7 linked regions of the Homo sapiens genome follow. The protein of the gene in region 5 interacts with the protein of the main gene of each other region in a pairwise test. Each region holds a gene or a part of one and is shown on either strand. Other genes may lie near its edges.

Evidence for each region.
Region 1: the proteins of CACNA1A (region 5) and MATK interact in a two-hybrid assay, tested with the Homo sapiens proteins (one study listed by BioGRID and IntAct).
Region 2: the proteins of CACNA1A (region 5) and MEGF8 interact in a two-hybrid assay, tested with the Homo sapiens proteins (one study listed by BioGRID and IntAct).
Region 3: the proteins of CACNA1A (region 5) and SRRM4 interact in a two-hybrid assay, tested with the Homo sapiens proteins (one study listed by BioGRID and IntAct).
Region 4: the proteins of CACNA1A (region 5) and SUMF2 interact in a two-hybrid assay, tested with the Homo sapiens proteins (one study listed by BioGRID and IntAct).
Region 6: the proteins of CACNA1A (region 5) and AGRN interact in a two-hybrid assay, tested with the Homo sapiens proteins (one study listed by BioGRID).
Region 7: the proteins of CACNA1A (region 5) and RBM12B interact in a two-hybrid assay, tested with the Homo sapiens proteins (one study listed by BioGRID and IntAct).

Annotation. Positions count from the first base shown.
Region 1 is NC_000019.10:3,779,789-3,783,933, forward strand, and holds part of MATK (megakaryocyte-associated tyrosine-protein kinase), read right to left. Parts: coding exon 4,026-4,145; intron 3,432-4,025; coding exon 3,338-3,431; intron 1,885-3,337; coding exon 1,819-1,884; intron 10-1,818; coding exon 1-9.
Region 2 is NC_000019.10:42,373,432-42,378,122, reverse strand, and holds part of MEGF8 (multiple epidermal growth factor-like domains protein 8 isoform 1 precursor), read right to left. Parts: intron 2,617-4,691; coding exon 1,348-2,616; 3' UTR 1-1,347. UniProt on the Homo sapiens protein: Acts as a negative regulator of hedgehog signaling.
Region 3 is NC_000012.12:119,145,003-119,149,693, reverse strand, and holds part of SRRM4 (serine/arginine repetitive matrix protein 4), read right to left. Parts: intron 4,314-4,691; coding exon 4,009-4,313; intron 1-4,008. UniProt on the Homo sapiens protein: Splicing factor specifically required for neural cell differentiation.
Region 4 is NC_000007.14:56,067,286-56,070,785, reverse strand, and holds part of SUMF2 (inactive C-alpha-formylglycine-generating enzyme 2 isoform b precursor), read right to left. Parts: intron 2,305-3,500; coding exon 2,148-2,304; coding exon of another isoform or gene 2,139-2,147; intron 1-2,138. UniProt on the Homo sapiens protein: Lacks formylglycine generating activity and is unable to convert newly synthesized inactive sulfatases to their active form. Inhibits the activation of sulfatases by SUMF1.
Region 5 is NC_000019.10:13,296,532-13,301,222, forward strand, and holds part of CACNA1A (voltage-dependent P/Q-type calcium channel subunit alpha-1A), read right to left. Parts: intron 4,126-4,691; coding exon 4,019-4,125; intron 2,823-4,018; coding exon 2,013-2,822; intron 1-2,012.
Region 6 is NC_000001.11:1,049,929-1,053,867, reverse strand, and holds part of AGRN (agrin isoform 2 precursor), read right to left. Parts: coding exon 3,831-3,939; intron 3,636-3,830; coding exon 3,539-3,635; intron 3,442-3,538; coding exon 3,277-3,441; intron 3,143-3,276; coding exon 3,031-3,142; intron 2,837-3,030; coding exon of another isoform or gene 2,825-2,836; intron 2,616-2,824; coding exon 2,499-2,615; intron 2,416-2,498; coding exon 2,223-2,415; intron 2,141-2,222; coding exon 2,053-2,140; intron 1,876-2,052; coding exon of another isoform or gene 1,852-1,875; intron 408-1,851; coding exon of another isoform or gene 375-407; intron 116-374; coding exon 1-115. UniProt on the Homo sapiens protein: Isoform 1, isoform 4 and isoform 5: neuron-specific (z+) isoforms that contain C-terminal insertions of 8-19 AA are potent activators of AChR clustering.
Region 7 is NC_000008.11:93,727,154-93,731,699, reverse strand, and holds the end of RBM12B (RNA-binding protein 12B), read left to right. Parts: 3' UTR 1-3,402; coding exon of another isoform or gene 3,403-3,495; 3' UTR 3,496-3,545; downstream 3,546-4,546. Other genes in the region: CIBAR1 (CBY1-interacting BAR domain-containing protein 1), read right to left, coding at 3,403-3,495.

The sequences.
Region 1 (4,145 bases), 9.5 Mb from region 5:
GCAGGACAGCTGGGGGGTGGGGGTGGGGAACGGGGTGAGATCAGGACCCCCAACAAACAGGGACAGAGAGACAGACGGACAGGCCCGCTCACACCGGTGCCCATGTAACATTCACACAGCTGCGGGTCCCCAGACCTTGAAACACAGACCCCATGCTCCTCACCCCTGCCGCCCTTGCAAGCTCCAGACCCAAGATCAGAGAACCATCTGGCTCTGGCGCGGTGGCTCACGCCTGTAATCCCAGCACTTTGGGAGGCTGAGGCAGGCGGATCACCTGAGGTCAGGAGTTCAAGACCAGCCCGACTAACATGGAGAAACCCTGTCTCTAATGAAAATACAAAACTAGCCAGGTGTGGTGGCACATGCCTGTAATCCCAGCTACTCGGGAGGCTGAGGCAGGAGAATCACTTGAACCCGGGAGGCAGAGGTTGCAGTGAGCCAAGATTGTGCCATTGCACTCCAGCCTGGGTGACAGAGCGAAACTCCATCTCAAAAAAAACCCCACAAAAAACAAAAACAAAGAGAGAACCATCTAAGCCAGGGGTCTGTGAACCCCCACCCCCTCGGGGCCAAATCTACCTATCACCTCTTTTTGCAAGACCCTTCAGCTCAAAATGTTTTTTGCATTTTTATTTTTAATTAATTAATTATTTATTTGAGACGGAGTCTTGCTCTGTCGCCCAGGCTGGAGTGCAGTGGCGCCATCTCTGCTCACTGCAAGCTCTGCCTCCCAGGTCACGCCATTCTCCTGCCTCAGCCTCCCAAGTAGCTGGGACTACAGGCGCCCACCACCACGCCCGGCTAATTTTTTTTTTTTTTTTTTTTAGTAGAGATGGGGTTTCACCATGTTAGCCAGGATGGTCTCGATCTCATGACCTCGTGATCCGCCCGCCTCAGCCTCCCAAAGTGCTGGGATTACAGGCATGAGCCACTGTGCCCGGCCAACATTTTTATTTTTAAAATATTGATACAGGGTCTCACTCTCTCACCCAGGTAGAGTGCAGTGGCGTGATCACAGCTCACTGCAGGTTCAAATTCCTGGGTTCAAGGGATCCTCCCATCCCGGCCTCCTGAGTAGCTGGGACTACAGGCATGCTCCACTGTGCCTGGCTTTTTTTTTGTACAGATGGGGGTCTCGCTACGTTGTCCAGGCTGCACCTGAACTCCTGAGCTCAAGGGATCCTCCTGCCCCGACCTACCAAAGTGCTGGGATTCCAGGCATGAGCCACCGTGCCTGGCTGGTTTTTGCATGTTTAAATGGTTGTAAAAACAAATCAAAAGATGAGTGCTGTTTCAGGACATGTGAGCATTACACAAAATTCAAATTTCTGGGTCATAGTTTTCATGGCCACGCCCATATGTTTACATATTGTCTGTGGTCGCTTTCACTCCACAAGGGCAGGATTCAGTAGTGGTGACAGCAGCTACCTGGCCCACAAAGCAGGAAATATTTACAATCTGGCCTTTTACAGAGAGTCTGCCGACCCCTGATCTAAACCCCAGAGCCTTCCAGAATAATAATTTCAGGGAATGGTGTTTCAAACATTCCAAACAGTGGGACTGACCATACAAGACCCTGGCAGTGTGAAGAAGTCACTAACGTTGACTGAGCGCCTGCTTGAGTTCACTTACTCCTCATGACAGCTGCCATTACCCCCTGTTCCAGAGGGGGAAACTGAGGCTCAGAGGATTTGCACGTCTTCAGCTGCACAACTAGTAGGTGGTTAAGTATGGGTTTGAATTCAGCTCTGTGACTCCAAAGCCTCAATACGCACCTCCCATCTTCCTTCAGCACCCCCAACCCAGTCCGCCACTCACCTCCAAACTCTCCCTCTCCGATCTGTGCTCCCAATGTCAAATGCTGCAGGTTCAGTAACCAGCCCGCTGTGGAGTGAAGACCCAGTCAGAGGGGTAATGGGCCCCCTAAATCCTCCCATTGGGGGTTCTACTTGGTGAGAGACTAGGTGATGTCTCTCACAGTGCTGCAGCTGTGGATACACATTTGAGTGGCTGCTGGGCCTGGCAATGCCCCTAGGACATATCAGAGACACCCCACTCCTGGTACCAATTATTGTTGTTGCAAGCAACAGAACTATCTCAGGTTGACCTGAACAAAAAGGGGCTTACAGGAGGGATAGTGGTGTGAATAGTCAAAGCTGGGGGCCTGCCTGGCTGAGACCCTCAGACCCCACACTTGCCCTCCAGGAACTCCCAGTCAGGCCCAAGGGGTAGTGCCAGGAAACACTTCAGTTCTCAGAGATAAGAGCTGCCCTTTTCTCTTTGGCTCTCTTGTCCCTCCAAATACCCTCTGGGCTCTTCCCTACACAGTTCTTTACCTCTGACCACCCCAGAAACACACACAGAGCAAAAAAACACAACATGGAGACCCATAAAGGTTCCAGAATATTCCAGGGCTCTAGCCTCCCTGACCCTTCTCCCAAGCACTCCTGTGTTGTCCCCTCCACTGCCCTCTGGTCGGTTCTGCAGACGTTCTCTTCTCCCTCCAGAAAGTGCCCCCTCCAAATGCCACGGTCTTAAGAGATCATTGGCCAGGGTGATGCTAGTCTCCACCTGGATGCCATCCCTGATGGGTACAGACTTCCCCAGCAGAGAGATACTTTCAAGGAGACAGACATGGGGTCAGAGGAGGCATTTGCTTTTGACCTTAAATATTGAGGATTTCACTACTTAGGGGCTGGAAAAGCATTTCAGGTGAAGGGAACAGAATATACAATGGCTCAGAGGCATGAAGAAAACGATGATCACAGTTGACCTGGGAGGGGGTGGATGTGTGGAGGAAGGGCTTTGCAGATGAGGCTGGAAAGGTGGCTCAGGCCATGCAGGCAGGTTCTGGAAGGTGGTGGAGCTGCTGGGCCTCTCTCCCTGGAGGCATGGTTTCATGATAGAAAGATAACCTTGAGGCTGCACTCAAGGCCTGGGCTGGAAGGGGGACTCGCCCTCTGGGAAGGAGGCGGTCTGATGGGAGGGCCTGAGGCTGGGCTGTGGGGAGGGGAGGGGAGAAGATTCACCAGGTCTTGGGAACCTGGCCAAGGAGGGAATGCTGGAGGATGGGGTGGGTGGAGGTTCGGGGCCAGGTTTCTGGCTCAGATGGTGGATGATGGTGACAGATGAGTGGCGAAGCTGGGGACCTATTGAATAAAGGACTGATCTGTGTCTGTGGGCACCCCCGAGGCAGCCCAGGTCTTCTATCCCATAGCTGGGCATGGAGACAGGCTTGGGTGATCTGGCCTCAGAGGTGCGGGGCCCCAGGGCCCTTCCTCCCGGACTGGGCTAACGTGGGTAGGGAAGGGGGTCTGCCCTCCTGGGCGTCCCCTACCCCTGGCCAGCTCCTCCTCGGCCGACTTGGTCCCGTGTTTCCGCTTTGGTCTCACCAGCTTGGTGCAGATAGCGCCCTTGTCCTTGCTGTAATGCTGCAGGATGGTGGGACAGCCATGAGCCCAGCCCCAGGGAGGGGAACCCCAGCATCCTGTTCCGTTCCCGGGTGGCCTCTGGGTGGGGTGGGTGGGACCGGGGAGGAGGAGAAAGGCTGGTTTCCATAGGAACGGGAAAGGAGGCAAGCCAAAAGGAGGGGGAGTCCTCTGGATTGGTATCAACTTGGGGGGTCCTGGGGGGTCCCCAGAGGAGTCACTCTAGTCCCTGGAGGTAGAACCAGGCTGACTCAGGCCACCTGTAGATTGGGCAGTCCATAGGGATCAGCCCCCCTATTTCTGCATTAAGGGGAATCCTACTGTGGGGGTCCTCCTGTCTGCCCATCTGAGATGGGATGGGGGCCTGGGGGTGCCTGGGGGGCCCTGGGGAATACCCCCTTCATCTCCACATTGGGGAAGCACAGAGCTCAGGGGGTCCCGGGTGATCAGCACAGGAGGTAGGGATGGTGTCTGCCCAGCTGCTGGGGAAGGGATGGAGGTCAGGTGACCCGCCCCTCTATCTCTACGTAGGGGAGTCTCCGGAGTCCCTGGGCTGCCCCACTGCAGGGACGGGGTGGGGCCTCTGGGTGGCAGCACCTCCACCATGTCCATGAGGTTGCAGAAGAACACGGCCTCATCGATTGTGAGGTGGCCGTCGCGGTGCAGCACGCGGTAGTGGATGACGTCGCGGCCAAAGCTCACGCACAGGACGTAGTC
Region 2 (4,691 bases), about 29 Mb from region 5:
GTTGGACCTGAGTGAAGAGATGTCTGAAGGGCATCTCATGTCAAGAACCAGACTCTGATCTTCCTCACAAGCCTCAGTCTGCCCCATTCAATTAACGATCCCCTCAGCCACCCACAGTTCAGGCCACAAAGCTAGGGGTCATCGTGGTTTTGTCTCCTCCCTCACCCTGACATCCACACCATCATTTATATTCTTCCATACACATCCCACATCTGAGCCAGACTCCCTCATTGCCAGCACCCTACTCCAGCCCACCATCCCTGCTGCCCCTCTTGTCCCTCCGGTCCATTCTCCACAGCACAACTGAGTGACCTCTTAAATTTTTTTTTTTTTTTTGAGGTGGAGTCTCGCTCTGTCACCCAGGTTGGAGTGCAGTGACGCAATCTGAGCTCACTGCAACCTCCGCCTCCTGGGTTCAAGCGATTCTTCTGCCTCAGCCTCCCGAGTAGCTCGGACTACAAGTGTGTGCCACCATGCCCAGCTAATTTTTGTATTTTTAGTAGACATGGGGTTTCACCATATTGGCCAGGCTGGTCACGAACTCTTGACCTTGTGATCAGCCCACCTTGGCCTCTCAAAGTGCTAGGATTATAGGCATGAGCCACCGCACCCGACCCTCTTAAATTCTTAAATAGGTACATCGGATCCTGTCACTCCCCTTCATCAAACCATCCAACAGCTTCCCATTGCCCTGAGAATAAAACCCAAAACCCTATGTGGGGCCCACAAGGCCCTGGGTGATCCAGCCCCTGACTATCCCCAGCCTCATCTCCTCACACTTGATCTGGGTCACACTTACCAGTTTTCTGGTCCTTCCAATAAAACAAGCCTGCTCCCACCCCAGGGCCTCTGCCTTTGCTTCCCAAAGCTCTTCCCGTAGCTGGTTCTTCTCAGGCGTTCTCAGTCTAGCTTCTTTGAATGCCCAGCTGACTTCACCCCATCGTCCCTCACTGCCACATCCTCTGGAGGCCTCACAGTGCTTCTCCCTCTCTGAAGCCATCTTACTTGTGTGTGCACATGTGCATGTGTTCATGTGTGTATGCGTGTGGGGTGTGTGCATGTGCACTGATTGTCTCCCTTCACCAGAACCTAAGTCCCATGAGATCAGGGAACCTCGTCTCTTGGTTCCTGCTTTGCCCCACGCCTATGACAGTGCCTGACAGAGTAGGTACTCGATAAATAGCTGCTGAATGCAGAACAAAGGAGGCCCCATCTGGGCAACCCTGGGGGAAGGGGGCCAGTGGTCTCCAAGTAGACAGTGTCCAGGGGCCCCCAGGTGGAGGGACCCCAAGTCCAGGGCGGCCCTATCAGGTGACCCAGCTGCTGTGGATGAGAACCCTGGGCATGTCAGAGGGACATGCTGGTGAGGTTGTCCTGGCTCAACAGTCCCTTCCGGCCCGCACCAGTCCCATGCCCACTGCCCCCAGCACCCCCACCACCCCCACAGTACTCGTGCAGCCTGTGCCGCAGTGTGACGAGGGCTGACCCCAGGCAGGCGCCGTTGGGTGCATGGGGCCCGCCAGGCAGCTGGAGCAGCAGTGTGGCCACGCCAGCCATGCCATCTTCTGTGGGCTCGAGAGTGATGGGCCCAGCTCGCAGCCCAGCAGTGGTGGCGGGGATGGCTGGTGGGCAGCAGCCCCCTCCCATGGGTCCCCAGGGCCCACCGGCCCCTGTCAGCAGCAGGGGTGCCAGGAAGGGCTCAGAGCGGCGGAAGGCGGGAGGTGGGAGCCCAGCCGGCTTCCAGGCGGAGGCCGGGGCAGTAGGGTCAGGTGGGAAGCAGACGGTGACCTTGGCGAAGGGGCGGCTGGCCATCTTGGTCATCTCCTGCAAGTGCCGGCGCTGCTCCTGCCGCTGGTCCAGAGCCTGCTTGGCCTTCCAGAGGAGCACACAGAGTGAGAGGAAGAGGAAGAAGCAGGAGAAGAAGACGGAGAAGAAGACAAACAGGTCAATGTGGGCCTGGTCCTGCCGGAAGAAGAGCAGGCCCTGCGAGTCGGCTGAGCCGTTGGCGCCGGGCCCACTTGGGTCTCCCACGCCCAGCAGCAGCAGGTAGAAGCGGCTCGACTTGAGGGCATGGTGCTCGTGTGGGTAGGTGATGACCAGCCGGTCCCGCACGCCGCGGACCACCAGCACTGCCGACGGCTCCGTCACCGTCACGTAGGTAATCAGGCCCCGCGGCCATACCTCCCGTACCCGTGGCTCTGCTGGGGCGCCCGGCCCACTGCTGGCCCCTGCTCCTCCTGGATCCCCAGCCCCCCGGGGCCCACCATCTGCAGGGGGTGGTGGAGGTGGTGGGGCTGGGGGTGGCTGGATGTGTACAGTATGGACGCCAGTGTCAGGGGCCACACGGACCACGAAGGTGTCATAGGAGGTGGAGACATAGAGGTCCACGGCCCCGAAGGTCACGTCCAGCGTCAGGCGGATGTCCACGTTGGTGAATTTGGGCTGCACGCCAAAGAGGACAGTGCGGCCGGGGCCTAGCGCCCGGCGTTTGGGCTCATGGAAGCAGTTGGTCTGGGACGTGGGGTCCAGGCAGCACTCCTGCTCCACCGAGATGAGGCGGTAGCACTGCTGGCCGCCCAGCGGACTCCCGTGAAATGATTCCCGGCACTTGGCGCACTGCGGGCAGGGTTAGAGGCGGTGACCATCAGGGCTGAGTGCGGTGCCAGCCTGTCCCCCAAGCAGCAGTGACGAATACTCTATACCCACTGCTAAGTAGCCATTGCCCTGGGCCTCACCCCCACTGCCCCAGTCACTTCCCTGTGACCCCCCGGACCTTCTCTGCCACAGTGTAGACCTTGCCAGGACCTGGCACTCCAGCACTGCTGCCCCTGGTGCCACCCTAGTGACCTGAGCACCCTGATACTGAGGCCTCTGGCACTCTGAGGCACAGCAGTGAAGAACGCGGCTGCATTCTGGCTCTACCTCCTTGTTAGCTGTGTGGCCTTGGACTAGTGACTTAACCTCACTGAGCCTGAGCACACAGACTTAACCCATGAGCTCTGCACACAGGGAGTAACCACGGCTCGCTCACAGGACCACTGAGATCATGTGCATGGCACTCGGCGCAGGGTCAGCCAGCCTCGCCTGCCTGCCTGGATGCTTCTTCTATACTGTGCCAGGCGCCCTCCCACCCTGGGGCCTTTGCACTGGCGGACCCTCTGCCTGCATGGTTCTCCTGTCACTTGTCAGCTTGTCAAGCCCCCTTGCCTCCTTCAGATCTTTGCTCAAGAGCCTCCTTCTCACCTAGGCCTTCCCTGGCCACTGTGTCCTGCGTCTACCATTCCCACTCCCCAACAGCCCTAGCCCCCGCTTCCTACTTAACTTTCCTTAGCGCTCCTCGCTGTCTAACACACGAGCATCTGACTTGTTTGTTCATTTCTGATGCCTCCATGAGAATGCAAACTCCTAAAGACAGAACATTTGCCTGCTTTGTTCCCTACTGTGTCCCCAGCAACCTGCACGGTGCTTGCCATATACTAGGTGCTCAATGACTGTGTGCTGAATGAATGTGTGGCTGGATAGATAACGGCTATGATTCCTGTGGCTTAGTGGAAACCACTCAAGTTCTGAGATCAGACCAGGGTCACTCCAGGCACCAAGCCTAACTGACCACCTGATCTGGGGTGAGACTTTTTTTTTTTTTTTTTTTTTTGAGACAGAGTCTCGCTCTGTTGCCCAGGCTGGAGTGCAGTGGTGTGATATCGGCTCACTGCAACCTCTGCCTCCCGGGTTCAAGCGATTCTCCTGCCTCAGCCTCCCGAGTAGTTGGGATTACAGGTGTCCGCCACCACACCCAACTAATTTTTGTATTTTTAGTAGAGAAGGGGTTTCACCATGTTGGCCAGGCTGGTCTCGAACTCCTGACCTTAAGTGATCTGCCCGCCTCAGCCTCTCAAAGTGCTGGCATGAGCCACTGTGCCCAGCTAGGACATTTAATGTCTCTGAATCTGTCTTCCTCTTAAGTCTGTACCCCACTGAGGCCCCAGCACAGTCTTGCAAAGCCTTTCATATCTATGCTGTCACCACTGTCTACACAGCACAGCATCCAGCTCTGTGGCAGGCGCTCCTGGCATTCTAGTTATTACTGCAATCACTATTAGAACCAAGAGAAAACAGACGCAGTGACTCATGCCTGTAATCCCAGTGCTTCAGGAGGCTGAGGCAGGAGTGCCGCTTGAGCCCAGGAGTTCGAGACCAGTCTGGGCAACATAGTAAGACCCCCGTCTTTAAAATTTTTTTAAAATTAGCCAGGCATGGTGGTGTGTGCCTATAGTTACAGTTACTCAGGAGGCTGAGGCAGGAGGATCACTTGAGCTCAGGAGTTCAAGGCTGCAGTGAACTATGATTGCGCCATTATACTCTAGCCTGGGTGACAGAGTAAGCCCTGTATCAAAAAAAAAAAAAAAAAAAAAAAAACCCAAAAGCCCAACCAGGCACGGTGGCTCACGCCTAGAATCCCAACACTTTGAGAAGCCAAGGTGAGTGGATTGCTTGAGCTCAGGAGTTCAAGACTAGCCTGGGCAACATGGTTAAAACCCCATCTCTAAAAAAAAAATTAGCCAGGTATGATAGCACATGCTTGTAGTCTCAGCTACTCAGGAGGCTGAGGTGGGAGGATGATGGAAACCAGGGAGGCAGAGGTTGCAATGAGCTGAGATTGCACCACTGCACTCTAGCCTGGGTGAAAGAGC
Region 3 (4,691 bases), on a different chromosome or scaffold from region 5:
CATTCTGGCTGTCTGCAAACCCTCTCCATTCCCTCTTCATCTGGCAACTCCTACTTATGATTCTGGCTTTAGCTTGACCTCACCCTTTCTGGAAAACCTTCCTTGACACCCCCGTCCCCTGTCTGGGTTGGGCGACCTCCAGTGTGTTACCACAGACCTTAGTTCTATGTTTTGCCTATCCCTATATGGCTTACTTAGTCTTATACTTGTAGGCTGTCTCTTCTGTCCCAGATATTGAGCTCCCTGGAGACAGCTCCCTGGGGACCTTTTCAATGTTCTGAGAATTTCACAAGCATCATTTCATTCCCAACAACCTTCTGAAGCCGACATCATTATTTATTTATTTTTTGAGACAGTCTCGCTCTGTCGCCAGGCTGGAGTGCAGTGACGTGATCTTGGCTGACTGCAACCTCCGCCTCCCAGGTTCAAGCGATTCTCCTGCCTCAGCCTCCCGAGTGGCTGGGACTGCAGGTGCGCACCACCACACTCAGCTAGTTTTTGCATTTTTAGTAGAAATGGGGTTTCACCATGTTGGCCAGGATGGCTTTGATCTCTTGACCTCGTGATCCACCTGCCTTGGCCTCCCAAAGTGCTGGGATTACAGGCATGAGCCACTGCGCCCAGCTGCCAATGCTATTATTACCCCCAGATTTACAGAGAAGTCTCAGAAGGGTTTGTTATTTCCTCAAAACCACCCAGAGCCCCAAACCTTGATCTGTGCAGCTCCAGAGTCCCCACCCCTCCCACCTCACCAGCTCCCTACCTTCAGTGTCTATGGTTCCTTTGATTTAGAGCTGATGTCTCTTCCACTCAGCCCATATTTATTGAGCCCTCTCTGCTCATAAGTGGCATGACATAAACAGTCATGGACTCAACCATCATTTATATTTCAAAGTGAAAGGCTGGGTCTAAATTACTTAATTTGGCTGTCCATGGAGATCAAATTAAACAGGTAACTGCTAGATGTCTCTCAGGCTTTAGTTCCTGTTTGGGGGACATATTTGTATTTGAATTCTGGTGCTGCCACTTATTAACTGAGTTTCTCAACCACTCTGAGCCTCAGTTTCCCCATCAGGTAAAAAAGGGTTACAAATAGTACTGTCCTATAAAGGTTTTGAGGAGCTCGGGAAGATTATTTCTGGAAAGCATTTGGCAGTGTACCTAGCATGTGATTTGGGCTCAACGAATATGAACTGCCGTTATTATTGTTGTTGTTATTGCTATTTCAATTTTTCCTGCATAATAGCACTGCTGTATATCAGTAAACATGTGTCCTCCTCCTCCCTTCTGGGAACTTCACTGCCTGTTCTTGGAGACACTGACATTGGCTCTGGCCCAGCTCAGGTTCTCAGTCAAGCTTGGGTGTGAGCTGAGGCCAGGGATGACCTGGGGCAGGCAAATGGGAAGGCAGTTCTGCATGTGGATGTCAAGCTGTTTGTCCAGGACTGAAATGGGGTATGTGTTAGGGACAAAGAGTGCTCTGTCTTTGAAGAAGCTGTTAGCTGCTTCAGTGCTAAGGCGTTAGTCATCTTTTGAAAATTTTGGCTATATGGAACAAAGGCAAACTCCCACCCTCAGAAGTAGAAAAACCTCACTGTTAGCATGACAGAGGGCACCAGCAAAGCTTTTCCACCCATCCCGCAACTGTGCATCTGCCTCATTAATTATAAGCTCCTGAGAAAAAGGACTGTTCCATTTTTAAATCCCCAGCACCAGGCTGAGTGTCTGGCAGAGAGGACTTGCCTGATAAACAAGTTGAGGAATAAACAACAGAATGAATGGTACAGACTAAGTGATCAGTAAATTTTAGTAGCTATTATGATGACAGTAACCTCAGTGATTAGCATTTTGTTGTGATTTCTTGAGTGAGAGAGTTAAGCGGATGACGAAGTAGAATTACAACTGGCTCATATGCATCTGTGTGGAAGAGTTTTCTGCAGGAAAACTGCATCTAGTGAGTGTGTTAAGATGGGTAAAAAAATGGAGAAATCTCAATGTTCTCTGATATGTTGATAAATTATACTATGGTATATCTGTATCTATAATTAATAAACTTTATTTTTTAGAGCAGTTTTAGTTTCATAGCATGATTGAATGGAAAGCACAGGGAGCTCCCATATACTTCTTGCTGCTACACACGCACAGCCTTATTCCCCACTATCAGCATCCTCCACCAACGTGGTCCATTTGCTACAATCGATGAACCTCCATTGACACATCATTATCACCCAGAGTCTATAGTTTACATCAGAGTACCCTCTTGGTGTTATACATTCTATGGATTTGGACAAATGTATAATGACAGTTATCCACCATTGTAGTGTCACACAGAGTAGTTCCATTGCCCTAAAAATCCTCTGTGCTCTGCCTATTCATCCCTCTGTCCCCTCACCCTCTGGCAACCACTTATCTTTGTACTTTCTCCATAGTTTTGCCTTTTCCAGAATGTCATACAGTTGGAGCCATGCAGTGTGTGACCTTTTCACATTGGCTTCTTTCACTTAGTAATATGCATTTACATTTCCTCCATGTCTTTTCATAGCGTGGTACCTCATACCTTCCGAGCACTGAATAGCATTCCATTGTCTGGACGTATCATAATTTATGTATTCATTCACGTACTGAAGGATATTCTGGTTGCTTCCAAGTTTTAGCAATTACAAATAAAGCTGTTGTAACATCCAAGTGCAGGTTTTTATGTAGAGATAAGTTTTCAATTCATTTGGGTAAATACTGTGATATGTTCTTTTTTTTTTTTGAGATGGAGTCTGGCTCTGTCACCCAGGCTGGAGTGCACTGGCGCAATCTCGGCTCACTGCAAGCTCCACCTCCCAGGTTTATGCCATTCTCCTGCCTCAGCCTCCCAAGTAGCTGGGACTACAGGCGCCCGCCACTATGCCTGGCTAAATTTTTGTATTTTTAGTAGAGACGGGGTTTCACTGTGTTAGCCAGGATGGTCTCGATCTCCTGACCTCGTGATCCACCCGCCTCGGCCTCCCAAAGTGCTGGGATTACAGGCGTGAGCCACCGCACCTGGCCTGTGATATGTTCTTAAATGACTTACAATTAATTTAATGTTAGACTTTCTTTCATTTTTTTTTTCTTTTGAGATGGAGTTTCACTCTTGTTGCCCAGGCTGGAGTGCAATGGTACAATCTCAGCTCACTGCCACCTCCGCCTCCAGGGTTCAAGCAATTTTCCTGCCTCAGCCTCCCGAGTAGCTGGGATTACAGGCATGTACCACCACACCCGGCTAATTTTGTATTTCTAGTAGAGACAGGGTTTCTCCATGTTGGTCACGCCGGTCTCGAACTCCTGACCTCAGGTGATCCACCCGCCTCGGCCTCCCAAAGTGCTGGGATTACAGGTGTGAGCCACCACGCCTGGTCAATGTTCGACTTCCTTCTAAGATTACTGGTAAAATTGTCATCTGTTTTTTTGCCTGCCTAGCCTCCATCTCTCCTGATACCAATAACCTGGCTTTTCCTGTAGAGGAGTGTGGGAAGGTTCGACTCATTAGCCCTAGTGATGGCATCTGACACATTCTGGCCAACAGCATAGCATCCCCTGGGACAGTGATGGGCAGATGACCTAAGCTGGGCCAAACAGAACCAATAAGCACCTGCCTTGGTGTTTGGCTGAAATCTTTGAGAAAGAAGCATTGTTTTCCTGTTGGCTGGCTAAACCAATAGAATGTTAGCTGCTTGGCATATTTGACAATGCTTTGGGAGGATCTGCTTGAGAATAAGGCCAGTAGGATGAGGAAGCAGAATAAGAGATGTAATGAGAAAGACGGATTTCCAGCAACATATTTTTGAACCCCTGAATCCAGCTGTACCTGAAGCTAGTGCCACTAGTGTTTTAAAACAAGCCAGTCTGAGTTGAGTTTCATCTCTCTTACAAATAAAATAATCTTGGGGGTGGAGTGGGGGAGGCTGGGATGAGAGCATGAGAAGGTGGAGCTAAGGTGGGAGACCGTCTACCCCCGACCCTGTGTGGTGCACTGACCTTGACTCTCTGCCCCTGCTGGTGGGGGAGAGATTCTCCAACATGGCCCCCTTGTTCTGGGGTGAGGAGGTGGTGAAGGAGTTCCCTGAATCAGAGGTGTTGCCACTGTTGAGCTCCCGGCTCTTGCTCAAGCCCCCACTGGGGCTCCCCTTCTCCTGGCCCCGAGACCTGGCTGAGCTGGTTTGCGTGGAGGGTGGCGAGGACGTGTCATTTCCTGAGTCGTACTCCTGGGAACGTCCTCGCGAGGTGGTGAGCGGGCTGGCTGTTTTGGTAAAGAGGTCAGCAGCAGACCCCGACCCAGTGATCTGAAAGCAAAAAGACCCGTTGGACACTGCTGAGCGCTGGGCCCATGGGCTGTTTCTAAATAACCAAGAAATGTTTACCGTCATGATGCACTGTAACGAAAGGAAAGAGAGAGAGAGGAGAAGAAAGAAGAGACGCCAAAAAACAAAAGCACAAATTCCTGAAGGAATACCACAGAAAGGAGATTTTTTTTTTACCCCCTGCTAGGATAACTGGAAGATTTAGGTATCATGCAGAGAAAAAGCATGCGATTCAGATTAAACAAAAGAAAAAGGAAATTATACAAAATTTAATTTCTAATGAATTAAACAAAAGAGTCAACTCAATAGAAAGGGGGTGTAAACACCCTTAACCTAAAACAATAATAAAAAATAAAGGAA
Region 4 (3,500 bases), on a different chromosome or scaffold from region 5:
TATTTTGTTCATACACTTACCAGCTGAAGATCATGTGAGTTATCTCCTGTTTTTGGAGATCATGAATAAAGCCACTGGAGCAGGAGATTTAAGGGTGGGGAATGTGTCTCTTTTCTGAAAGGTCTCCAGCACATCTTTTTTTTTTTTCTTTTTTTTGAGAAAGGATGTCTCTCTGTTGCCCAGGCTGGAGTGCAGTGGTGCAATCATGGCTCACTACAGCCTCAACCTTCCACACTCAAGTGATCCTCCTGCCTCAACCTCCCTAATAGCTGAGACTACAAGTGTGTGCTACCATGAAGGGCTAATTTTTTTTTTTTTAATTTTTAGTAGAGATGGGGGTCTGTGTTGCCCAGGATGGTCTCGAACTCCTGGGCTCAAGTGATCCTCCCACCTCAGCCTCCCAAATTGTTGGGATTACAGACGTGAGCCACTGCATCCAGCCCTTCATCACATATCTCATCTCACAACAACCATCAGAGATAGATGTAACAGGTGTTATTGTTATTAACTCCATTTAAGAGGTGAAAAACACTGAACCAAATAGAAGTGAAAAATTGGGCTTTTAAAATGGATTTTTGGCCGGGCGTGGTGGCTCACAGCTGTAATCCCAACACTTCAGGAGGCCAAGGCAGGTGGATCACCTGAGGTCAAGAGTTCAAGACCAGCCTGACCAACATGGAGAAACCCTGTCTCTACTAAAAATACAAAAAATAGCTGGGCGTGGTGGTGCATGCCTGTAATCCCAGCTACTCAGGAGGCTGAGGTAGGAGAATCGCTTGAACCCAGGAGGTGGAGGTTGTGGTGAGCTGAGATCGCACCATTGCACTCCAGCCTAGGCAACAAGAGGAAAACTGTGTCTCTAAATAAATAAATAAATACAAATAAATAAAATGGATTTTCAAGGCCAGGCATGGTGGGTCACACCTATAATCCCAGCATTTTGGGAGGCCACGGCAGAAGGATCATTTGAGCCCAGGAGTTCGAGACCAGCCTGGGCAACAGGGCAAAACCCTGTCTCTACCAAAAATACAAAACAAAATAAGCTGGGTGTGATAGTGCGCACCTGTAGTCCCAGGTGATGGTTTGAGCCTGGGACGCAGAGGCTGCAGCGAGCTGAGATCATACCACTGAACTTCAGCCTGGGTGACAGAGCCAGACCCTGTCTCAAAAAAATAATAACAATAACAATAATAATAATAAAATGAATTTTCATATACTTTGGTATGGTTTAGTAAGTTTCAGGGGGCAGACTGTCAGGGTAAGATGGATTGTTATATATATGTATTTATATATATATGTGTGTGTATGTATATTTATATACTTATTTACTTATTTATTTATTTTAGCAGAGATAGGGTCTCCCTATGTTACCAGCCTGGTCTCAGACTCCTGAGCTCAAGCAATCCTCCCACCTCGGCCTCCCAAAGTGCTCACATTGCAGGTGTGAGCCAGCACACCTGGCCTATAAGGGGAATTTAAAGGACTCTCTACTATGATGTCCCTTCTCCCAATCCCTTCCCCATGTAGAAGAGGTTTCTGTTGAGTGACTGGCGTTTGCTTATATTTCTCAGTGCTATGCCCAGTGTAATGGAAAATGCACTGGCTCAAGAGCCCAGGGATTTGAGTTCCAGGCCAAGCTCATCCACTAACTGAGAGAGTCAGTCAAACCTCTTTGGATTTCAGGTTCTTCATCTGAATAACATATCCCATAGTACACTGCAAAGATGACACGTGACAGTGAACAAGTTAGTTTTCCTTTAGATATTAAGAATGAGGCCAAGTGCAGTGGCTCATGCCTGTAATCCCAGCACTTTGGGAGGCTGAGGTGGGCAGATAGTTGAGGTCAGGAGTTCGAGCCCAGCCTGGCCAACATGGAGAAACCCCGTCTCTACTAAAAAAATACAAAAAAAAAAAAATTAGCCGGGCGTGGTGGTGAACACCTGTAATTCCAGCTGCTCGGCAGGCGAAGGCAGGAGAATTGCTTGAACCCGGGAGGTGGAGGTTGCAGTGAGCGAGATTGCGCCACTGCACTCCAGCACCTGGGTGACAGAGGGAGTCAGTCTCAAAAAACAAAAAAAAAAAAAAGAAAGAAAAAAGAATGAGATTAGAGAGGGTCTTCATTCCTCCTGGAAGAATACCTGATGTACCTGAAATCTTTGTTGGTGACAGGAAATATGTCGATGGCAAAGGGTTTCACTGTCGCCTCCCGCACAGGCCCGTCACCATCTCTGCTGTCTGGAGAATTTGTTCCCATCAGGAATCTCCCACCCTGCAGTTGGACCATGCTAGTAGCCTGTCCATTTCCTGCAGAGAAAAAAGAGAGTTACCAGTAATACATGCATATATATAAAACAAGTGGTAATATTTGGATCATATGCAATACTCATGATGGTATAACAAAACACAACAAAAAATGTGGAGGCTTAAAAATCTGGCTTTAAATTCCTTTTGGGCTGGGCACGGTGGCTCACACCTGTAATCCCAGCACTTTGAGAGGCCGAGGCGGGTAGATGACGAGGTCAGATCAAGACCATCCTGGCTAACACGGTGAAACCCCTTCTCTACTAAAAATACAAAAAAAAAAATTAGCCGGGCGTGGTGGCAGTCGCCTGTAGTCCCAGCTACTTGGGAGGCTGAGGCAGGAGAATGGTGTAAACCCGGGAGGCGGAGCTTGCAGTGAGCCGAGAGTGTGCCACTGCACTCCACCTGGGCAACAGAGCGAGACTCTGTCTCAAAAAAAAAAAAAAAAAAAAAGAAAGAAAAAAAGAAAATTCCTTTTGCGTTTTGTTTGTTTGGCTTCACATTCTTGTTCTGCCACTTAATTTGCTGGGAAACCTTAGGCAAATTACTTAATCTGAGATTCAATTTCTTGTCTTTTTTTTTTTTTTTTTCGTGACAGGATCTCGCTGTGTCACCCAGACTGGAGTGCAGTGGTGCACTCTGGGTTCACTGCAACCTCTGCCCCCGTCAGCTCAAGCAATCCTCCCACCTCAGCCTCCTGAGTAGCTGGGACCACAAGTGTGCACCACCACACCTGGCTAATTTTTGTATTTTTTGTAGAGATGGGGTTTTGTTATGTCGCCCAGGCTGGTCTCAAACTCCTGAGCTCAAATGATCCTTCCACCTCAGCCTCCCAAAGTGCTGGGATTATAGGTGTGAGCCAGCACGCCCAGCTGAGATTCAATTTCTTCATCTGAAAAATGGGGATATCTATGGACGACCATAGCTTATTAATAAAAGAAAAAATAAGTATGAAAAATAGGGATAATATCTCACTATCTCTTAGGTAGCAGCTGTATCAATTAAAATAACATGGAACCAGGAGCAATGGCTCAGAGACAGGGTGCAGAGGCTAAGGCAGGAGGATTGCTTGAGCCCAGGAGTTCAAGGTTGTAGTGAGCTATCATTGTGTCACTGCACTCCAGCCTGGGTGACAGAGTGAGACCCTGTCTCAAAAAATAAAAAATAAAAAGATAATAATAACAATAAGATAGCATGGG
Region 5 (4,691 bases):
AGATGCCTCAAAAGCTTTCTAACATTTTTATTTATTTTTAAAAGGTGAGGTCTCACTATGTTGCGCAGGCTGGTCTTGAACTCCGGGGCTCAAGTGGATCCTCCCACCTTGGCCTCCCAAAGTGCTGGGACTACAGGCATGAGCCACCACATCCCGCTGCATCCAAAGCTTTGAAACTCTGCTCTCCCTTCAATTCTAACGGCCCAAAGTGCCTTTTCTTTTTCTTTATTTTTTATTTTATTTTTTGAGACAAAGCCTTGCTCTGTCGCCCAGGCTGAAGTGCAGTGGTGCAATCATAGCTCATCATAGCCTAGACATCCTGGGCTCCAGTGACCCTCCTGCCTCAGCCTCCCAAGTAGTTGGGACTGCAGGTGCATGCCACCACATCTGTTTAATTTTTTATATTTTATAGAGATGGGGTCTGCCTCTATTGCCCAGACTGGTCTCCAACTCCTGGTATCAAGTGATCCTCCCACCTTGGCCTCCCAACAGAGTGGCTTTTCAAACTTCCAAAGAATAGCATTAGGTAAATAGAGTTGGCTGAAAATGGCCAAAAATGCTCTAAATTTACCGAGCACTTATTATGTGTCAGCTGCTCTTCCAGGCCCTTTGCATACATTACCTCATTCAATCCTGGCAATGACCCAATTAGATCCCACTATTTCCATTGTGTGAGGCCCAGAGATATGAAGTCACTTTGCAAAAGTCACACAGCAAGAACACAGAAGACTATATAATTCTGGACGACAGTGGGGCTTCTCTTAATAGTTTCCCTGAAATGCTCAAGGCCTCTGGTGCCAGAGAGCCTGGGTTCAAGGACACTGGTTAGAGGAATGACCTTGAGGAGCTCACTCAATCTCTCAGTTTCCCCATCTGTGAAGCCTCTAATCCGAACACTTTGGGAGACTGAGGTGGGATGATTGCTTGAGGCCAGGAGTTGGGGACCAGCCTGGGCAACAGAGCCAGGCCTCATTTCTACTAAAGGTAAAAAAATTAGGCTGAGTGTGGTGGCTCAACCCTGTAGTCCCAGCACTTTAGGGAGGCTAAGGCAGGCGGAATGCTTGAGTTCAGGAGTTTGAGACCAGCCTGGGAAACACAGTGAAACCCTGTCTCTACAAAACACTGTCTCTACAAAAATTAGCCAGGCATGTGGCACATGTCTGTGGTCCCAGCTACTTGTGAGGCTGAGGCGGATGGCTTGAGCCCGGGAGGTAGAGGCTGCACTGAGCTATGACTGCCACTGCACTCCAGCCTGGGCAACAGGCGAGACCCTGTGTCAAAAAAACAAAAACATACAGCATTTTTTTTTTTTTGAGACAGAGTCTTGCTCTGTTGCCCAGGCTGGAGTGTGATGGCACGATCTCAGCTCACTGCAACCTACCTCCACCTCCCAGGTTCAACTGATTCTCCCGCCTCAGCCTCCTGAGTAGTGGGAATACAGGTGGGCACCACCACTAATTTTTGTATTTTTAGTAGAGACGGGGTTTCACTATGTTGGCCAGCCTGTTCTCCAACTCCTGACCTCAAGTGATCCGCCCGCCTCGGCCTCTCAAAGTGCTGGGATTACAGGCATGAGCCACTGCTCCTGGCCAAATACAGCACTTTTTTTTTTTTTTTGAGACAGAGTCTCACTCTGTCGCCCAGGCTGGAGTGCGGTGGTGTGATCTCGGCTCATTGCAACCTCCGCCCCCTGTTTTCAGGCGATTCTCCTGCCTCAGCCTCCTGAGTAGCTGGGGCTACAGGCGCCTGCCACCGTGCCCGGCTAATTTTTGTATTTTTATTAGAGGTGGGGTTTCACCATCTTGGCCAGGCTGGTCTTGAACTCCTGACCTCGTGATCCATCCGCCTCGGCCTCCCAAAGTGCTGGGATTACAGGCGTGAGCCACTGCGCCTGGCCAAATACAGCATTTTATAATATATTTTTATAAACAAATACACAGCACGTGCTACTTTGGCTGTTGTCATTATTAATGTTACCGTCATTCTGCGGATTCGAGGTCACCTCCACTTACTTCCTCCTCCGATGCCTCCGCTCCTTGTCCTCCCTCCGCGCGTCCCCCTCGTACGTGGCTGGAGCGCCATGCCGGTGCCTTCTCCTGCGCTCGCCCCCGTCGGGGCCCTCGCCCTCGCCCTCGCCGCCCCGGGCCGGCCGGCTGCCCTCGCGGTGCCGCGCCCTCCGCTCCGCCTTGTCCTCCGGACCCTCCTCCCCGGGCCTGCGGTGCGCGCGATGACGTCGATGCTCCCCGTCCGCGCCCGTGCGCGGGGACCCGCTGCGGCTCTCCCTGCTGCCCCCCTGCCGGTGCACGTGCCTCCGGTGGGGGTCCCCGGCCTTGCCTCGCTCGGCCTCGCCCTCCCAGAACCCGGGTTGCTCCAGGCTGCCCTCCCGGGCGTGGTGGTCCGACTCGCGGCCGTAGGGTCCCTCCCGGCTCAGCTCGGCCTCCTGGCTTCCCGCCCAGGGCCTCCGTGCGTCCAGGCCCGCCGAGCCGCTGGGGTCCCGGGCCCGATCGTGGTAGCGGGCCTGTTTCCTGAGGAAGTCCTCGGCGCGCTGCTGGCCGAGGCGCTGGTCCACGGTGGGCTCGGCCGCCCGGCTCTTGTTGGTGTTGTTGTTGCGGTTCTCCTGCGGGTCCACCACCAGCGGCCGGTCCAAGTGCGTCTTCATGTCTGGCCGCAGGTGCCGCGTGTAGGCAGCCTTCCAGCGCTCGTCCGGGTCCATTTCGTTATACAGGGCCTCCCGGCTGGCCAGCAAGTTCTGCTTTCGCATCTCACTGGTCCGCTGCTCCCACACGGACTTGGCTGGCTTTTGATTCTTCTGTTGCTCTTTCCTGCAGTGGCATGGTCACAGGACTTAGAGCATTGCTAGGCACTGTAGCTTGGATGGATGACCCAGGCGAACCAACCCACATCTCAGCCTCCCACTCCTGCTCTCCACCCTCTACTCCCCACTGAATGCTAGGAGTCTGTGAGCATCTGAGTCAGGTCCCAGCCTCCTCTGCTCAAGAACCCTCCATGGCTCCCACCTGGCTAGGGGCAAAAGCCCAAGTCCTCCCCCCTGACCCAGAAGGCCCTGTGTAATCTGCTTGTCACCTCCTTGCCTTCACCTCCTCACACTTACTATTCGATTCTAGTCACACAGGCCTCCTTCACATCAGGCATGTTCCTGCCTCAGGGCCATTGCCTATGCTGTTCCCTCTGCCTGGGATGCCCTTCCCCAGGCCCCCCAGTGGCTCCTCCCTCACCTCCTTCAGGCCATGTAACCTTCTAGGTGAGCAGTCCCCAACCTTTTTGGCACCAGGGGCCAGTTTTGTGGAAGACAGTTTTTCCACAGACCTAGGTGTGGGGGGTGGTTTTGGGATGAAACTGTTTCACCTGAGATCATCAGGCATTCGATTCTTAAAAGGAGCACGCAACCTAGATCCCTCAGATGCACCGTTCACAATAGTGTTTGTGTTCCTATGAGAATCTAATGCTGCCTGCTGATCTGACGGCAGGTGGAGCTCAGGCGGTAATGCTTGCTTGCTCACTGTTCACCTCCTGCTGTGCAGCCCCGTTCCTAATAGGCCTCGGCCTGGTACCAGTCCACAGCCCCGGGACTGGGGACCCCTATTCTAGGTGATGCCTTCCCTGACAACTTCGTTTAAAATCACAACTCTCTTCACTCCCAGCATTTGCTATTTCCCTCCCCTACTTTCTCTGTAGTTCCATCGCCTTCTAACACAATATATAATTTACTTATTTATCTAATTTATTGACTCCTTCCCTTGCTAGAATGGCTACACACAGGTGGGATTTTTTTTTTCCTCCTTGTTAATGCTGTATCCCCAGAAGTTAGAACAGTGCTGGGTACATAACAGCTGCTAACCAAATATTTATTGAGTGAAAGTGGGTGGAAGGACAAGAAGTGTCTCTTCCTAAAGCTCAGTTCTGTCAAGGACCACCCCCACTGCTTCCCAAATCTGTGCCTGGGATAGTGTGGACGTTCAGGAGCCAGGGTAGCATCCCAGGGATTAGGGGCACTTACACAGCTATAGACATGTTGGCCGCGGACAGAGGACTCACTTCTGCCACCTCCTTGGCTTTCTGTAGGGCAAGTTTCTGGTTCGCTGCTTCTTCTTCCTCTTGCTCGTCCTAAAAGGCACGTGGAATCTTTGTTCACAAAACATGAACTAGGCCTTGGGGACTCACTTCTGACCCTGTTGCTGACCAGGGGCAACATTTGAAATATTTCGACCAATCAGAACCAAGGCTCCCCAATTGGAATGGGTACCTGCTATTGGTTAAGTGTATTGCTATCCCCTCTGTGTATAAGTTTGACATCTAACTCATTATGAAGCCTATTTTAACACACAGCCAGATAACAAAAAATAAAAATGTCCCTTCTCTTCCTACAATGAAGACTTTCCTGCAGCCTATTTTTTTTTCTTTTGTTTGTTTTCAGAGACAGAGTCTCCCTTGGTTGCCCAGCCTGGAGTGCAGTGGCACAATCATAGCTCACTGTAACCTTGAACTCCTGGGCTCAAGCAATCCTCCCACCTCAGCCTCCCAAGCAACTGGGACTACAGGTGCATGCCACTATGCCTGTATACATTTAATTTTTTTTTTTTTTTTGTAGAGACAGGGTCTCACTATGTTGCCCAGGCTGGTCTTGAACTTCTGGCCTCAAATGATCCTCCCATTTCGGCCTCCCAAAGTGC
Region 6 (3,939 bases), on a different chromosome or scaffold from region 5:
GGCCAGTGCCACATAGTCTGCCCGCTCCGTGGCCTTGCCACTCCAGAGCACCAGCCCCTGCGTGGCCTCAGTGCGCAGGCTCAGTTCAAAGTGGTTGCTCTGCAGTGCCTTCTCGCTGGAGGGCAGAGGGCAGGTCAGGGCCTCTAGGAAGGTGGCAACAGGACAGGGTGGGGGAGGCGGGAGGACAAGGGCCCCAGCTGCGGAGGCCACAAGGGCTGTGACGGGACCCAGGGGTGGCTGGTGGGCAGACACCGACAGTGGGAGGGAGAAGAGGGATGGAGACAGGGGCAGCCTGGCAGAGAGAGATCAGAGAGACGGGCGGGAGGACAGATGGGCCAGCCAGGGGTCTGCAGGCACTGCTGCCACGTGCTCACCTGTGAAGGGCCCCGGAATCCAGAGTTTCGGGGCTTAGAAGCAGGAAGAGAGGGAGGCGGGTGAGCAGGGGACAGGCGGGGCCAATGCAAACCCATCTCAACACTGTGGGGTGCAAGGAGCAGGCACCCACAGAAGACATGCGTGACCTCGAGGATCACTGGCCGCCCACCAAAGAGCCCAGCAGGGACACCTACACATGCTTGTGCGGACACGAGACACGTGAGGGTGCAGACACCCACGTGCAGACACGAGACACTTGAGGGCACAGACACCCACATGCAGACACCCACGTGCAGACACCCACGTGCAGACAGCAGGGGAGCACAGCCAAGGCTGGGCGCAGAGATCAAGGAGGTAGGCGTAGGGTGGTATGGAGTGGAGACCAGGGGCTTGGATGCCCCAGTACACACATGCATGTGTGCATGCACGCAAACCTACACACGGACACACACACCCCTCCATGTTCACACACATACACACGTGTACACGAACACACACAGACACACCTGAGTGCTCCCCACTTACACCTGTTCATACACACACACATCTACATATCCCCCCATATATACACGCATATACACGGACCCATGCACACACTCGGACACACACCTGTCTCCCCCACATATACACACACATACATGGACCCATGGACACACACTCGGACACACACCTGCGTGTCTCCCTCATATACACACACATACATGGACCCATGTGCACACACTATACACACATGGACCCATGCACACACACTCGGACACACACCTGCGTGTCTCCCTCATATACACACACATACATGGACCCATGTGTACACACTATACACACATGGACCCATGCACACACACGGACACACACATGCATGTCTCCCTCACCTATACACACACATACATGGACCCATGTGCGCACACACTCAGACACACACCTGCGTGTCTCCCTCATATACACACACATACATGGACCCATATGCACACACACACACACGGACACATACCTGCATGTCTCCCTCATATACACACACATACATGGAGCCATGCACACACACGGCCGCATAGTCACACACGCATATCTACATGTCCCCCCCACATATACACACACACATATACATGGACCCATGCACACACACAGCTGGATATTCACACACACTTGCACATCCACTCCATATACATAGACACGCACAGACACAGCTGCATGTTCACACACGCGGAAGTGCACACGGACACAGACATGCATGCATATGCGCACAGGTGTGTACAGCCTCAGTGGTGGGGGTTGGCTGTGGGGCGACCCTCGGCCTGTGCCCTGGGAGGGGCGACTGCACTTCTGAGGCAGGAAACGGCCTCTTGCAGCCAAATAGCGCCGGACCCCCATCCTCCGCCACAAGGGATGGAAAGTTCCCCGGGGGCTCCGGACTCTGCTCCCCACCAGGAAGGATGGAGGAGTGGGAGTGAGAGGGAGCGGGGGGCGCCGAGCTCTACTCACACGGGGATCTCATTGGCCAGTTCGCTTGGAAACAAAGAGACAGACAGTGAGAGGCGGGAGGACCGGGAGGTGAGAGAGAGGCGGGAGGACAGAGGTGGCAGCACCGGGCCGTCCCCTCCTGGGCCCTCCTGGTGTGGGGGTCCGGTGTCCCGCCCCGAGGGCACAGATGGAACCGACAGCCAGCAGAGGATGGCACGTTACCTCTCGGTCACAGCGTTGAGGTACTCGACAAAGGTCCGCCCGTCAAAGGCCAAGGTATCCACGTCCCCCGCTGACTTCTCCACCAGCCCTGTGAGATAGGCAGGTGAGGGTGGGGCCTCGTGGGCTCCGGGCCCATCCGGCCTCCGCCCCCTGCCCTGTGCCAGGCTCACCCTTCTCGCAGTGCGGTCCTGAGAATCCCCCGGGACACAGGCACACATAGGCAGCCTCCCTCGGGACGCAGGAGGCCCCATTGAGGCAGGGGTGGCCTGAGGCCCGGGTGCAGGGGTGACCTGCAAAGGACGTGACGTCCACCTGCCGCAGCACGTGCTCCGGGGTCAGCAGCTGGCGGCCTCCGAGGGAGACCTGCAGGGCAGGGTGAGGGCCTTGTCCCGCCTGCCACCCCGCCCGCCCCGGAGGCCCTGCTGGGACGCCCCGCCCCCACATACCAGCTGGATGGCACCGTCGAAGCCAGAGGACACGGCAGCAGCACGGGCCAGCTTGCTGAAGTCGGGAGCGCCCCCTACGTAGAGCGGCTCCTTCAGGTTGAGGACGGTGTGCGGAACCTGCGGGGACGCCAGGTAAGTGGCTGTGCAGAGCCCACCCACGGTGCAGACCCAGGGCCCAGGCACCTGCACGCACCCGCCCCACCCGCCCATTGCCTATCTAGGGGGCAGCGTTAATCACACAGAAATGGCAGGGTCCTTAGTGGGGGAGGAGCTACCCTAGGGGTTGAGGCGCCAGAGACGGTGAGCGGATGAGAGGCCGACAGTACCTTGCGGGATTTCTGGCCTCCGAAGAGCGGGTGGGGTTGCAGAGCGAGAGCAGAGAGCAGGGAGGCAGAGGAGGCAGAGGACAGGGCAGGCGGCCAAGAGAACAGGACAGAAAAACAGCTCCGTGAGCGCCGGCAGGGGCGGGGCTGCCGCCCGAGGAGGAAGAGCAGGCAGCAGCGGGAGTCCCCTCGCGGCCCAGAGCACTCACCGGGGACTCCCCCAACACACGGGGGCCGTCGCCCACACGCAGGGCACCCTTGCGGCCGTTTCGCTCCAGTGAGACCCTGGTCCAGGCTCCCAGGGTGACTGGCTCCCTGCTCCTGGTGAGGAGGGGCAGCGTGAGTGGGCTCTGTCCACCACCGGCCACGCGACCACCCAGGGCCTGAGCGACCTGCTGGTGCCCCGGCCCCGGGCCAGTGCCCCAGGCCTCCCAGAGCCACCCTTGCCGGCCCACCTGATGACCGCTGCCCCCTTGCCCAGGTCGTAGCGGAACTCCAGGCGGCGGTCCCGCAGTGCCAGCGACACGAAGTCCCCCTTGCCGTCCGTCTTCTGCCCGTTGTAGAGCAGGAGGCCGCTGGGGCCTCGTGCCAGGAACACGACCTCCAGCGCCATCTTCTCCCTGGGGTCATGGGGAGTCGGGGTGTCTTTGCTGTCCCCTCCCCACAGGAGAGACGGAGGTGGGGGCCGGCCCTTCCCCCTGCTCCTGCCCCACCGACCCCAGGTCCCGTGCAAAGGTGTGCAGGCCTCTCAGCTCCAGGTGGGAGAAGCCGTTGAAGTCAGCCAGGAAGGGCCCAGAGCCGTCCTGCCCCGAGGCTGTAGGGAGAGTCACCAAGGCCTCAGTCCTGACCCCCGGGGCCTCCTGCACCCCATGCCAGCCGTGTGTGGATCCTAACTCAAAACCCAGACTAGACTGAGCCGCATCCTAACTGCAATGCTACCTGGAACCTGTACCCGCCCAAACGTTCAACCCCCCCCCCCCCCCTGCCCCGAGAGCCCCACGCCCCCGACCTGTCTGGCAGAAGGTGCCCTCACGCCCCAGGGGGCACTCGCACTGAGCACCACCCTCGGGCAGCACACGGCAGGGCGCCGCCCCATGGCAGGGGTTGGGCTGGCAGGG
Region 7 (4,546 bases), on a different chromosome or scaffold from region 5:
TACATATGGTAATTTAGACATTTAATAGGATATTGCATAGGTAGAATACTTTGTCAGTACTTAGTTACTACCTATATGTATTTTTGTGTTACTTTTCAGTGATTTAAAGAAATCTAACAGAAATCTGCTTAAATTTGTTTTAAATAGTGAATATCCTGCTTGCTATGGAATGAATAAACAGGTAAATTTGATATGAAAAAGCACCTCAGTATGATTCTTTAAAGTATAAGCTTGTAAGTAGCTAGGATAATGTTAAATTGATTGTTTGGAATATCCAAACCAAGCACAATGAAGAAAGTAGAAATGATATTTTTAATTGAGCAAAGATTGTATAGATGGTTCATTTGGTCACCCATTTTGAATAATATATGGAAAGTTAAAAAATGCTTCTCAGATACAAAGGAATAAAGCTAAGATGAAGCTTAACGTGAGGGATTACTTACTGTGGAATTGCATTTCAAACTGGGCTGAGGTGGGATGGTGGTGGTAGATAAGAGGCCAGCTAGAGTAAACATAAGCTTTGTAGTTTTATTATTTTAAGAGTCAGAGTCTTGTTCTGCTGGCCAGGCTGGAGTGCAGTGGTCTGATAATGGTTCACTGCAGCTTCTAACTCCTGGGCTCAAGCTGTCTTCCTGCCTCAGCCTCCTGAGAGCTGGGACTACAGGTGTGTGCCACCTTGTCTGGCTAAATTTTTTATTATTTGTAGAGACAGAGTCTCACTGTGTTGCCCAGGCTGTTCTCAAATTTCTGGCCTCAAGCAATCCTCACTCCTTGGTCTCCCAGAATGTGTTGGGATTACAGGTGTGAGCCACTGTGCCCAGCCTTGTATTTTGATTTTTAAATTAATTTATATGAATATTTCCTTTTACCCTATAATGTATCAGGGCTTAATATTTTTAAACTTCATTATAAAAAGTTGATTACAGAAAGTGGTATCTTCTAGTTGGGAGCCATCTTTGCACATCTCTCTCCAACTCTGCCTTTAGTGATATGTCAATAACAAATTGGCCATGGCAGGAGTATTTTACACCATGGAAAGTGATAAATGCAGCAAATCAAGGAATTCCCCTCCTGTTGTCCCCTCAGAAAGCCAGCTTCCCAGCACCTCATCAATTTCAAATATAAAAAAAGAATAGTAAATTTTCATGTACACATCACTCAGCTTCAGTAATTGTCGTCTCATAGCCAGTTTTTCCTCTCCTATCCTCAAGGTATACCAGGTACACTGGAGGTGTATTCTCTAGCCTGATACCCAGTGGCATTTGTCTTAAAGCCAAACATTTTTGTCTAGAAATTATCTAAAAAAATGTAGATCATGTCTAGAAAGTCAATCCCACAACCAAGAGATAGGTAAAAATCATGTTAGGAGTGCATTTCTATTAATTTACTGAGATCACTGTTAAGAGCAGTGATTCTTGATCCATATATCACCTGTTAAGTAGTGACCTTGCTGCCTCTGTTTTTGCAGTAAATATTAGCTGTTGTTTATTGAGCTGTATTAGATACTATATGATGTATAATTATGTATGAATTAACTATCATTTAATTCTGATAATCCTAGTAAATGTACTACAGGTTGAGTATTCCTAATCTGGTAATCTGAAATTTCACATGCTCCGAAAATCACAAACTTTTTGAGTGCCAACATGATGCTCAAAGAAAATGCTCATTGCAGCATTTAAGATTTCAGATTTTTGGGTTAGGAATGTTGAACTGGTATAATGCAAATACTCCAAAATCTGAAGAAATCCAAAGTCTTAAATACTTCTGGTCCCAAGCACTTCAGATAAAGGATACTCAATTTGTATTCCTATTTTGGAGATAAGAGATGGAGACTTACAGGCTGGGTTGGTTGGATTGGTTGCCTGTTTTTTGTTGTTGTTGTAGTGGAAGCTAGGAATGGTTTTTCACATTTTTTAAGTGTACTTAAGTCTTACATGGTTACATAGTTACCTGTATAATAGTCTTGAATTTGCCTAAACCCACGAAGAATAACAGTATTTGCTATCTGGCCCTTTAAGAAGTTTGCCAACCTAGGCTGGTCTAAATAATGAAAATTTTACATTAATGAAAGTATTTTCATGGATAGTATTCCTTTTGTTCTTAGAATATTTCTTTGAGGTAGGCAGAATGTATGTTTTATTCCAGAATTACTGTTTTACGCAGTTTTAACTTTACAAACAAGGCAAATAATGCTCAAGAGAAGTTGCTATTTAGTAAGCAGCAAAATAATAACTCTGTTGTTTTCCCCCGAAGTACAACCAAATTTAAATACTGAGTGAGGAAGCAGTAAATATCCAATGATATCTTGAGTTTCTTAAGAATATCAATTTAGGGTTTTAAAATGTTTTAAATATTTTACAAAAAAGTACTGAAACAACTTTGTCACTTAGGACTATTCTCAGGAAGGAGTGCTTTGTTAAGAACAGAGCCATGATTGACAAAGTCAGAAGCTTTCTAGAAAGTCTTTATTTTTCTGTTATGAATAATTGCATTTTCTAATTATCCCAAATGATTTTATAAATTCCGTAACTTTTATATGCCTGCCTGGGATCCATGAAATAAAAGTATTCCTTACCAAAAGAGAAGCATCAGATACACTGAAAGGCTCAATGTTTTATATTTTCAGAAATAAAAGTGACTGTATACCCTTTTATTAACTATATGGTAGCTTGGTAAAATTTTTATAGAATTTTTAATGATCTATGGTGTTCTATGATGAGGCAACATTCCACCAAATTAGCCTTCCAAAAGTTGCAGTATCATGTATAATTATGACAGCAGTTTTGTTTTAAAACCAGAGTCAGATTGAATGTAGCTTTTTTACAGCTGAAATTTATGCCTTATGTGTATTCATAAAACATTGATAACTTAGTGTCACATTATCTTTACTCTTTGGTTATACTCTTCTTGAAAAGTAAATTTACTTATCAAATGATAAAGTTTCAGGGAAAGTTAAAAAAAGTTTTTTTTCTTAAGGCTTCATGGAATAGAATTCCATGAATCATAATGACTACGTAAGACCCTTTTCTGGTAATGAAAGCATGGAGTCTTAACCAAAAAGCTAAGCAGAATTGTTAGATCTTTTGGTTTCTGTCATAATGTACTATTGGAACTTCAAGTAGATATAGTACATTAATATGAAATACTTTGAAATACACCATCTTTAAAAAAAAAGGCACTTACACAAAAATCATGTAACACTAGGTAGGATGTTGAAATGACTGGTATGCAATATTTTTTAAAGCCTTCATTTTTGGTCAGCATAAGTTTCCTTTAATTATTTTTCTGTTTCCAGTTGGACTTCACTTTGAGGCTTAACATAGCAAAGTGAGTATAAAGTTCTACAATTTAGTCATTGTGGATTTCAAGTCATTTATGATGAAAATGGAAATGTGTAGTTTACTTAAGAAAATTTTCTTCTTCTGTAACATCTAACTCGTCATCCTCATCATCTTCTGCTTGTTGATCCTTTCTTAGTCGACAAGTGGATACCTGTTAAAAGTTAACACACTTTTTAAAATAAAAATACTAACTTAAAAAAATTTTACATTCTTGGTATATTTTTATGCTATTAAAGGGCACACAACAAATATTTCAAAAAAATGTCCATGTCATAATTTTTAGTAGTGAAAATTCCCTATGAATTTTAAGCTCAGAAGCCAGTTTTTTCATTCATCACATTTTTTTGAATAAAAATGTGTAATTAGCCATTTGATTTTAGTTGGATAGCCATCAATACTTCAAAAACATTAAAAGTATAGACTCTATATTATGAATATTAAAAATAAATTTTGGGTCACAGAAACAGCATTTGAGAATCATAAAATGGATGGCAAAAATAGAAGGATATTTCAGCTAGGCAGTGGGACAGAAATACTGATGTAAAAGTAGTGTGATTTAAATGGAATGAGTTGAGAATCTGAATTCACCAGTTTTAAGTTGCCTGACTGCCGCCACGTGGGGCATATTGCTTAAAACTTCTCTTGAGGGTGATTATATCTAACCCAGGGGACATTTGGGAATGTCTAGAGACACTGTTGTTTGTCAGTATTGGGGCTGTGTGTTTATGTGTGCTACTGGCATGTTGTAGGTAGAGGCGGGGGATGCTAATATCTGCTTGATGTCGTCACAATATACAGGACAGTATTCCGTCCCCTTCTTCCTCCCTGGTGGGCCCAATTATTTGTCCCAAAGTCAGCAGTGCTGAGGTTGAGAAACCCTGGGATAATGCATTCTGAAGTGCTATACAAGTGTTAGCTAAGGTGACATTATTAGTTGTAGTCAAAACTTTATATGGACTATAAAAGTAAATTTATGGAATTTATGTTCAAGGCACTTAATGCCGGAATAAAAAAAATACAATTGGGTTGGGGGAGAGATACATACATATAAAACAAAATAAATGCTTACAGGAGAATCAAATGAAAATAGAAAGTATGGTATCAAATTTACCTAAAAGTTGTATCTTGAAAATAAGTTTGTTGAATTTTATATTCTGAAGGCTAGATATGAAAAGGGCATAGCTCTCTAGATCAGGGTTTGG